Regions from separate parts of the Homo sapiens genome. Here region 1 is linked to region 2. The links come from fine-mapping of genetic effects on gene expression. A gene starts in region 2. The other region holds a variant in brackets. All regions are shown on one strand. Distances are from middle to middle.

The links.
Region 1: its variant is fine-mapped to the expression of C9orf72 in whole blood (TOPMed, PIP above 0.99).

Annotation. Positions count from the first base shown.
Region 1 is chr9:27,595,148-27,600,528 of GRCh38, reverse strand. No RefSeq gene overlaps it. Among named protein-coding and RNA genes, the nearest start is that of C9orf72, 24 kb to the right of the region's middle. The variant A/G (reference allele first, on the strand shown) is at 3,362.
Region 2 is chr9:27,570,150-27,575,530 of GRCh38, reverse strand. C9orf72 (C9orf72-SMCR8 complex subunit) reads left to right here and starts at 2,050. Exons shown (of 11, transcript NM_018325.5): 1 at 2,050-2,100. RefSeq lists enhancers at 1,441-1,968, 2,567-2,656 and a silencer at 1,977-2,056.

The DNA of each region.
Region 1 (5,381 bases), 25 kb before region 2:
CCCATGGTTTTTCAACTACGTCACTATTGGTAGCAGTTTCCACTGCAGGATCTATTTGCAAAGCCTAGGAAATTAGCATTAAGCAAGCTGCTAGGAAGACTTCAACAGTAACTAGGCCACAGGCCTCACACATTTTTCCTCCACCCCAGCCTCCTCTGGAGAGTACTTGCTAAACCTCTGTGACACATAATGAAGCAAAGAAAGTGATAGAACAACAGAATTACACGGGCAGATCCTTGTTTCTTCTTCTCTCTCTAAAGAATTCCTTGGACTGAAAAGCAGTTTATTTTGGAGGAGTGAGAAAGTGGTGACAGAATTAGAAGGGCCTGGGAGGGCTTCATTTTAGGAGACAGTTTTAGGCTGAAAAGAGATTTCATGAGTGTGATTTACCTGAGGTGACTTTTGGGGGCTCTTATAAAAAGGAAGTTCATGCTGAATGGGAGGTGGCTTCTGAGATGCAGATTCTGGTGAGCTAAGAGGGCTCGGTAAAGAGGAGGCAGGAGTTAAGTAGCGTGAACTATGCAGTAGCAGCCTTCTTCCCCCCTTGCTTGGGGCAGGTCATCACAACCCTTCTCAATAAAGGGGTCCAGGAACCACTAGGAATAAATGGGCATTTGCACTTCAGGTGAAACCCATTTGTCATAACTGCTTGGACTTTAAGCTTACAAATAAAAAGAACCACATATTTCCCTTTGCAGCTTGATTTAGTTAATGTCATTTTGAGAAAGAAAGAAGACATTGTTATCCCGTCCCTTTTTTTTTTTTTTTTTTTTTTTTATGAAGAGACTGGGACTCAGAGAAGTCAAGTGATTTTCCCAGAACCAGAAAACACAGAAGTAGCAGAGCTGAGATGACTACTCCGGTCTTCTGATTCCAAATTCCAAATTCATTCTTCTAAGCGATTTCCCAAAACGGGAAATGGGTTTATCTTCTATTTATGGGAAGTGATAGTGGTATTCTATTTAGAGAACTTATATAAAATCTTACTTTAAAATAAATAATATTTCAAAAAGTAAGCTTAATTTAAAGAAAATAATCAAGAAAGTCTGGTATATTTTTACAAATATACCAAATGACCTTGCTCTAAAATACATCTACTTTCCAGCAAGCCAAAGTGAAACAATTTGAAATAAGTGGCATTTACTGACCACTCCCTAAAGTTCACACAAAAGAGGTAGTACTCTAACTTAAATATACAAGGTGAAGAAATAGCTTACTCAGCCTGTTGGGCTTCCTCTTCTACACTCTTGGGAAATGCCCTCCGTGTTAACCAAGAATTCTCAGGCCTTGGAGGGAGTTTTCCATTCTCAGTAAACTGAGATTGCAGTTGCGGAAATTAAGAGGTATCTGTCCAGCACTTCATTCCCTTAAGGTCAGGATCTGTGCTTTTAATAATGACAATTAGCTAACATATACAATTAAGCCATGCAAATGAAGTAAGAGAAAGCTAGAGGAGAAATTCAGGAGCCAGTTGCCTTTTCCAGACATCTTGTACAAATAGTGTTCAAAGGACTAATTCAAAAGATGGGATTCTTCGCTTGAACCCAGGAGGTGGAGTTTGCAGTGAGCGGAGATCGCTCCACTGCACTCCAGCCTGGGTGACAAAGTGAGACCCCATCCAAAAAAAAAAAAAAAAAAAAAAAAAAAAGATGGGATTCTTTTTTAAAAAATAAATTTTACTGCGTATTTTTAAGGTATACAACGTGATGTTATAAGATGGATATAGATAGTGAAAAGGTAACTGTAGTGAAGCAAATTAACATATTCATCATCTCACATAGTTATCTTTTATTTGTTTTGTTTTGATGGGATTTTTAAGATAGTAGAAAGGAATGGTAGACAATAAACATTTGAGGGAAAGTGGGGCTTTGTAGAACTCCTAAAATGACAGCACGCACAAATGTCCCCATTATGTCTAAAGGGTAACTCGTTCCTACTTCTAGGGACAGCTGAGGGACATCAATGTAAATTTCTAAATGACTTCCTGAACTTTTTATTTTTATTTTTTGTATTTTTAGAGGAAATTATAATAACATCAAGCCACCTCTGGACCATATCGCTGCTGATATCATCAGCAAATGGCACTATTCCTAAATCCTAAGATGCACTTTTCCCTTCACATTTCAACATTTGTGAAACTCGATTGTACCTACACCTGATTTTATATACAATGCAGCCTTTCCTTTTCTTTTGTCATTGCATCTTACGCCTGATTTCTCCTTGGAATTGAGTAAATATAATGCTTACATGTGTTAATAAGAATTGAGGTCACTCATAATTTTTGAAATATGCCACCAAATATAAGCCTTTCTACATATTGTTGACTTTGAAGTCATTTCTTTTTTTAACTACTAAACAATAACACTTTTTGTTGAGAAAAATTGCATATGAACAAGAGACCAAGCAGGTAGAGAGAAAAAAACTTTTAATAATCAAGAGAATGTTACTGTGTCCCAAAGGCTAAAGTCACCTTACTATCAAGAGAGAAGGACAGGAACAGAGAGAACCAGGTAAATTACGAATTGAAAATTCCATGGTTCATTTATCTTTATTTTTAATAATTCCATTTGTGTGATTGTGTTGACCACAAGGTCATAATGTTACTCTTCATACTGACTTCTCATGTAAATTATAAATAAGTTTTTATGCTAATGATTTATGGAGTAAGCTATTCATCTTTCCGACAGAGAGTTACCTACAAAGAAATAATTATTCTACCTCTGAGATGAAATATCATGAAAGGAGTGGTTTCCAGATATTTTGACTTTTAAAAGCTTAAAGAATATATGTAGTATAAAATTCTAAAGCAGGCAAAATTAATCCTTTTAGCAATCAAGATAGCGGCTACTTTTGGTGAGAAGGACAAGGTAGTGATAGAGAAGGGGCTCAGGGGTCTTTCCTGAAGACAGTGAGGTGGGCAATGGTATTTTCCTTGACCTGGATGGTGATTAAACAGATGTGTTTACTTTGTGATAATTGACTAGGCTGTGCACCTATGAACTGCATACTTTTCCATATATGTACTGTATTCTTATACTTAAAAAGAAGTTTAAAAATAAATGCAACAGATATAGGACTTCCTATATTACTCGTTGACCAAAAAAATGGATTCATTTTTCTTTCAGGTAAAACGTACTAGTGGTTTTAATATTATATTGACCAGGGAGTAAATGTTTACCTTAGGAACCTTAATCTTGATGTTCTCCAAAGTCATTATCTGTTCTTTCTGATTATCAGAATAGAGTATATCTCTATATAAATGAAAATTTCTGGTCATTCTCAAAAAATAACACTAAGCATGAAAATCAGAAATATTGATCTTGTTTTGTAATGATGTTTCTATTGATGTGAAGTAGTTTCT[A/G]GTAGAGTTGCTGTCCTAACACACAAATGAAATTGCACTGTTTGGAAGACACAACTGTGAATGACTTGCTTCAGTAAGGAATTTCCAACATGATGGTTTAGGGATAGAGGTGCTCGATTCCTCTGTCTCCGGTTACCCAGGTTATTGAGGACAGGGAGGTCAATAAGTAATGCCCTCCTCCCACCCATAGCACAAAACAGAGCGGGGTTCAGAGAATAGGTAAGGCTTTGGCCAGGGTGTTGAGGAGACTTACATCCCTGGGAACCAGTCAGAATGGGGGCGCTGAAAACAATGTTTTAAATTCTAGCACCCAGCAACATATGTGTGAAGATTAAATGTACTCGTGCTAAATTCACTTGCTCCATTACTGAATTTGGGTGGTGTCTGTTAAAGATGGGAACAAAGGCATTCAGGTCCTGGTATCTTCTACCACTCCCAGCATGAACAGACTCATGTCAGTGGGTAAGGGATGGTATTTCCCGAGAAGGCTTTGAACTCTTGTAGTGGGTCAAATAATGGCCCCCCACTTAAAAATGTTCATGTCCAAATCCCTGGAAGCTGTGAAAAGGGGTTTTTGCACATGTAATTAAGTCAAAGATATTGAAATTAGATCATCCTGGATTACATAGGTGGGCCCTACATTTAATGACAAGTATCCTCATAACAGAAGAGGAGAAGGTGATGTGAGATTTGGAGCAGCAGAGATTGGAGTGATGTGGCCACCAATCAAGGAAACCAAGGACTTCCAGCAGCCACCAGAAGCTGGAAGAGGCAAGGAAGGACTCTTCCCTAAAGCCTTTAAAGGAGCACAGCCCTACTAACACCTTGCTTTTGGGCTCTGGCCCGCAAAACTGTGAAAGGATACATTGCTGTTATTTGAAGCCACAGTTCGTAGTAAATTTATTACAGCAGCCCTAGAAACTGATACAACTCCTAAATACACCCTTAGCAACACTGCTCAACAAGAAGTAGGCAATTTCCTCCTGACTGAAAAATACTGATACTGTTATGGGATCCTTGGGGGTGTTGCTTTTCTGTCCAGAAACCTCTGTGGCGGTGGCACCTTTGCATGAGTTTTGCTCGGGTCCACTGGGCCCACTCATCCTGGCAGGCTGCGCTCAGCTGACACTACTGGCGTGGATCCCATGCCTCCAAAGAGACTGGAGCGAAGCGGTGAGGGATGTGTGAGGAAGTGAGCGTGGGGTCTGGCACACAGTCAGGCTCAATGGCTGCTACAGCGGGATGGGCAGCTTCAGGTGCTGGCACGGGTGCTGGCTCACTGCAAGGCTGTGGCTGCACCAAGCAGCGCAGCAACGGAACGCATTGGTGCCTGGAAACTTGGAGACTCCAGGAACCTCAGGGCTCCAAAAGGCAAATCACAGCCCTAGCTTCGGGAGCTCCCAGGTCTGGGCTGCCAAAGGGCTGCAGCTCTTCTCTCCTCTCTCTCTCTTCGCTCCTCTCCCTTTCTCTCTTCACTCCTCCCTCTTTCTCTCTTCACTCCTCCTGTCGCCTATGAACAGCGAATTCAACCTTCCAGTTTTCAGACTAGGAATGCTGGAGTTGTCCTTGATTACTCTGAATTGTTCACTCCGCATATGGGCACTGAGGATACGTTGATGAACTACACAGACAAAAAGGATAGAAATTCCTGTCAAGACTACATTCAATAGGGATGAAGCAGGCAATAATGAATAAACATACTAAGTTGAATATGACTATTTAAATATATATAACACATATGACTTGTATAATGTTAAATATTTTAAGTTTTTTAAATTCTTCCCTTCATAGATTTTACATTATAGTAGAAGAGGCATTTTTGTTGTTGTTCTTTTTGTTTTGGATTCAGAGGGTAAATGTGCGGGGTTGTTACATGGGTATATTGCATAATGCTGATGATGGTCCCATCACCCAGGTGGTAAACATAGTACGTAATAGGTGAATTTTTAGCCCGTGCTTCCCTCTCCCATCTAGTCGTCCTGAGTGTTTATCGTTGCTACGTTTATGTCAATGTGTATTC
Region 2 (5,381 bases):
CCCCAGTTCCTGCCATGTGAAGTCTGGGGTCTCCCTATGCCTTCCATCATGATTTTAAGTTCCCTATGGCCTGCCCAGAAGCTGATCCAGCCATGCTTCTTGTACAGCCTGCAGAACTGTGAGCCATTAAACTTTTCTTTATAAATTACCCAGTTTCAGTTATTTCTTTATAGCAGTGTAAGAATGGACTAACACAATTATTAACGCTAGTCCTCATGTTGTACATTAAATCTCTAGATGTATTAGACGTAACTGCAACTTTGTACCCTACCCTACAATTTTCTTTCCCCCCAAGCCCCCCAACCAAGGGTCTACTCTGTTTCTATAAATTCAGTTGTTTTTTAATTCCACGTATAAGTGAAGTACAACTCAGTGTAGAAACTTGGTAAATGCTAGCTACTTGTTATAAGCTGTCAGTCAAAATAAAAATACAGAGATGAATCTCTAAATTAAGTGATTTATTTGGGAAGAAAGAATTGCAATTAGGGCATACATGTAGATCAGATGGTCTTCGGTATATCCACACAACAAAGAAAAGGGGGAGGTTTTGTTAAAAAAGAGAAATGTTACATAGTGCTCTTTGAGAAAATTCATTGGCACTATTAAGGATCTGAGGAGCTGGTGAGTTTCAACTGGTGAGTGATGGTGGTAGATAAAATTAGAGCTGCAGCAGGTCATTTTAGCAACTATTAGATAAAACTGGTCTCAGGTCACAACGGGCAGTTGCAGCAGCTGGACTTGGAGAGAATTACACTGTGGGAGCAGTGTCATTTGTCCTAAGTGCTTTTCTACCCCCTACCCCCACTATTTTAGTTGGGTATAAAAAGAATGACCCAATTTGTATGATCAACTTTCACAAAGCATAGAACAGTAGGAAAAGGGTCTGTTTCTGCAGAAGGTGTAGACGTTGAGAGCCATTTTGTGTATTTATTCCTCCCTTTCTTCCTCGGTGAATGATTAAAACGTTCTGTGTGATTTTTAGTGATGAAAAAGATTAAATGCTACTCACTGTAGTAAGTGCCATCTCACACTTGCAGATCAAAAGGCACACAGTTTAAAAAACCTTTGTTTTTTTACACATCTGAGTGGTGTAAATGCTACTCATCTGTAGTAAGTGGAATCTATACACCTGCAGACCAAAAGACGCAAGGTTTCAAAAATCTTTGTGTTTTTTACACATCAAACAGAATGGTACGTTTTTCAAAAGTTAAAAAAAAACAACTCATCCACATATTGCAACTAGCAAAAATGACATTCCCCAGTGTGAAAATCATGCTTGAGAGAATTCTTACATGTAAAGGCAAAATTGCGATGACTTTGCAGGGGACCGTGGGATTCCCGCCCGCAGTGCCGGAGCTGTCCCCTACCAGGGTTTGCAGTGGAGTTTTGAATGCACTTAACAGTGTCTTACGGTAAAAACAAAATTTCATCCACCAATTATGTGTTGAGCGCCCACTGCCTACCAAGCACAAACAAAACCATTCAAAACCACGAAATCGTCTTCACTTTCTCCAGATCCAGCAGCCTCCCCTATTAAGGTTCGCACACGCTATTGCGCCAACGCTCCTCCAGAGCGGGTCTTAAGATAAAAGAACAGGACAAGTTGCCCCGCCCCATTTCGCTAGCCTCGTGAGAAAACGTCATCGCACATAGAAAACAGACAGACGTAACCTACGGTGTCCCGCTAGGAAAGAGAGGTGCGTCAAACAGCGACAAGTTCCGCCCACGTAAAAGATGACGCTTGGTGTGTCAGCCGTCCCTGCTGCCCGGTTGCTTCTCTTTTGGGGGCGGGGTCTAGCAAGAGCAGGTGTGGGTTTAGGAGGTGTGTGTTTTTGTTTTTCCCACCCTCTCTCCCCACTACTTGCTCTCACAGTACTCGCTGAGGGTGAACAAGAAAAGACCTGATAAAGATTAACCAGAAGAAAACAAGGAGGGAAACAACCGCAGCCTGTAGCAAGCTCTGGAACTCAGGAGTCGCGCGCTAGGGGCCGGGGCCGGGGCCGGGGCGTGGTCGGGGCGGGCCCGGGGGCGGGCCCGGGGCGGGGCTGCGGTTGCGGTGCCTGCGCCCGCGGCGGCGGAGGCGCAGGCGGTGGCGAGTGGGTGAGTGAGGAGGCGGCATCCTGGCGGGTGGCTGTTTGGGGTTCGGCTGCCGGGAAGAGGCGCGGGTAGAAGCGGGGGCTCTCCTCAGAGCTCGACGCATTTTTACTTTCCCTCTCATTTCTCTGACCGAAGCTGGGTGTCGGGCTTTCGCCTCTAGCGACTGGTGGAATTGCCTGCATCCGGGCCCCGGGCTTCCCGGCGGCGGCGGCGGCGGCGGCGGCGCAGGGACAAGGGATGGGGATCTGGCCTCTTCCTTGCTTTCCCGCCCTCAGTACCCGAGCTGTCTCCTTCCCGGGGACCCGCTGGGAGCGCTGCCGCTGCGGGCTCGAGAAAAGGGAGCCTCGGGTACTGAGAGGCCTCGCCTGGGGGAAGGCCGGAGGGTGGGCGGCGCGCGGCTTCTGCGGACCAAGTCGGGGTTCGCTAGGAACCCGAGACGGTCCCTGCCGGCGAGGAGATCATGCGGGATGAGATGGGGGTGTGGAGACGCCTGCACAATTTCAGCCCAAGCTTCTAGAGAGTGGTGATGACTTGCATATGAGGGCAGCAATGCAAGTCGGTGTGCTCCCCATTCTGTGGGACATGACCTGGTTGCTTCACAGCTCCGAGATGACACAGACTTGCTTAAAGGAAGTGACTATTGTGACTTGGGCATCACTTGACTGATGGTAATCAGTTGTCTAAAGAAGTGCACAGATTACATGTCCGTGTGCTCATTGGGTCTATCTGGCCGCGTTGAACACCACCAGGCTTTGTATTCAGAAACAGGAGGGAGGTCCTGCACTTTCCCAGGAGGGGTGGCCCTTTCAGATGCAATCGAGATTGTTAGGCTCTGGGAGAGTAGTTGCCTGGTTGTGGCAGTTGGTAAATTTCTATTCAAACAGTTGCCATGCACCAGTTGTTCACAACAAGGGTACGTAATCTGTCTGGCATTACTTCTACTTTTGTACAAAGGATCAAAAAAAAAAAAGATACTGTTAAGATATGATTTTTCTCAGACTTTGGGAAACTTTTAACATAATCTGTGAATATCACAGAAACAAGACTATCATATAGGGGATATTAATAACCTGGAGTCAGAATACTTGAAATACGGTGTCATTTGACACGGGCATTGTTGTCACCACCTCTGCCAAGGCCTGCCACTTTAGGAAAACCCTGAATCAGTTGGAAACTGCTACATGCTGATAGTACATCTGAAACAAGAACGAGAGTAATTACCACATTCCAGATTGTTCACTAAGCCAGCATTTACCTGCTCCAGGAAAAAATTACAAGCACCTTATGAAGTTGATAAAATATTTTGTTTGGCTATGTTGGCACTCCACAATTTGCTTTCAGAGAAACAAAGTAAACCAAGGAGGACTTCTGTTTTTCAAGTCTGCCCTCGGGTTCTATTCTACGTTAATTAGATAGTTCCCAGGAGGACTAGGTTAGCCTACCTATTGTCTGAGAAACTTGGAACTGTGAGAAATGGCCAGATAGTGATATGAACTTCACCTTCCAGTCTTCCCTGATGTTGAAGATTGAGAAAGTGTTGTGAACTTTCTGGTACTGTAAACAGTTCACTGTCCTTGAAGTGGTCCTGGGCAGCTCCTGTTGTGGAAAGTGGACGGTTTAGGATCCTGCTTCTCTTTGGGCTGGGAGAAAATAAACAGCATGGTTACAAGTATTGAGAGCCAGGTTGGAGAAGGTGGCTTACACCTGTAATGCCAGAGCTTTGGGAGGCGGAGGCAAGAGGATCACTTGAAGCCAGGAGTTCAAGCTCAACCTGGGCAACGTAGACCCTGTCTCTACAAAAAATTAAAAACTTAGCCGGGCGTGGTGATGTGCACCTGTAGTCCTAGCTACTTGGGAGGCTGAGGCAGGAGGGTCATTTGAGCCCAAGAGTTTGAAGTTACCGAGAGCTATGATCCTGCCAGTGCATTCCAGCCTGGATGACAAAACGAGACCCTGTCTCTAAAAAACAAGAAGTGAGGGCTTTATGATTGTAGAATTTTCACTACAATAGCAGTGGACCAACCACCTTTCTAAATACCAATCAGGGAAGAGATGGTTGATTTTTTAACAGACGTTTAAAGAAAAAGCAAAACCTCAAACTTAGCACTCTACTAACAGTTTTAGCAGATGTTAATTAATGTAATCATGTCTGCATGTATGGGATTATTTCCAGAAAGTGTATTGGGAAACCTCTCATGAACCCTGTGAGCAAGCCACCGTCTCACTCAATTTGAATCTTGGCTTCCCTCAAAAGACTGGCTAATGTTTGGTAACTCTCTGGAGTAGACAGCACTACATGTACGTAAGATAGGTACATAAACAACTATTGGTTTTGAGCTGATTTTTTTCAGCTGCATTTGCATGTATGGATTTTTCTCACCAAAGACGATGACTTCAAGTATTAGTAAAATAATTGTACAGCTCTCCTGATTATACTTCTCTGTGACATTTCATTTCCCAGGCTATTTCTTTTGGTAGGATTTAAAACTAAGCAATTCAGTATGATCTTTGTCCTTCATTTTCTTTCTTATTCTTTTTGTTTGTTTGTTTGTTTGTTTTTTTCTTGAGGCAGAGTCTCTCTCTGTCGCCCAGGCTGGAGTGCAGTGGCGCCATCTCAGCTCATTGCAACCTCTGCCACCTCCGGGTTCAAGAGATTCTCCTGCCTCAGCCTCCCGAGTAGCTGGGATTACAGGTGTCCACCACCACACCCGGCTAATTTTTTGTATTTTTAGTAGAGGTGGGGTTTCACCATGTTGGCCAGGCTGGTCTTGAGCTCCTGACCTCAGGTGATCCACCTGCCTCGGCCTACCAAAGAGCTGGGATAACAGGTGTGACCCACCATGCCCGGCCCATTTTTTTTTTCTTATTCTGTTAGGAGTGAGAGTGTAACTAGCAGTATAATAGTTCAATTTTCACAACGTGGTAAAAGTTTCCCTATAATTCAATCAGATTTTGCTCCAGGGTTCAGTTCTGTTTTAGGAAATACTTTTATTTTCAGTTTAATGATGAAATATTAGAGTTGTAATATTGCCTTTATGATTATCCACCTTTTTAACCTAAAAGAATGAAAGAAAAATATGTTTGCAATATAATTTTATGGTTGTATGTTAACTTAATTCATTATGTTGGCCTCCAGTTTGCTGTTGTTAGTTATGACAGCAGTAGTGTCATTACCATTTCAATTCAGATTACATTCCTATATTTGATCATTGTAAACTGACTGCTTACATTGTATTAAAAACAGTGGATATTTTAAAGAAGCTGTACGGCTTATATCTAGTGCT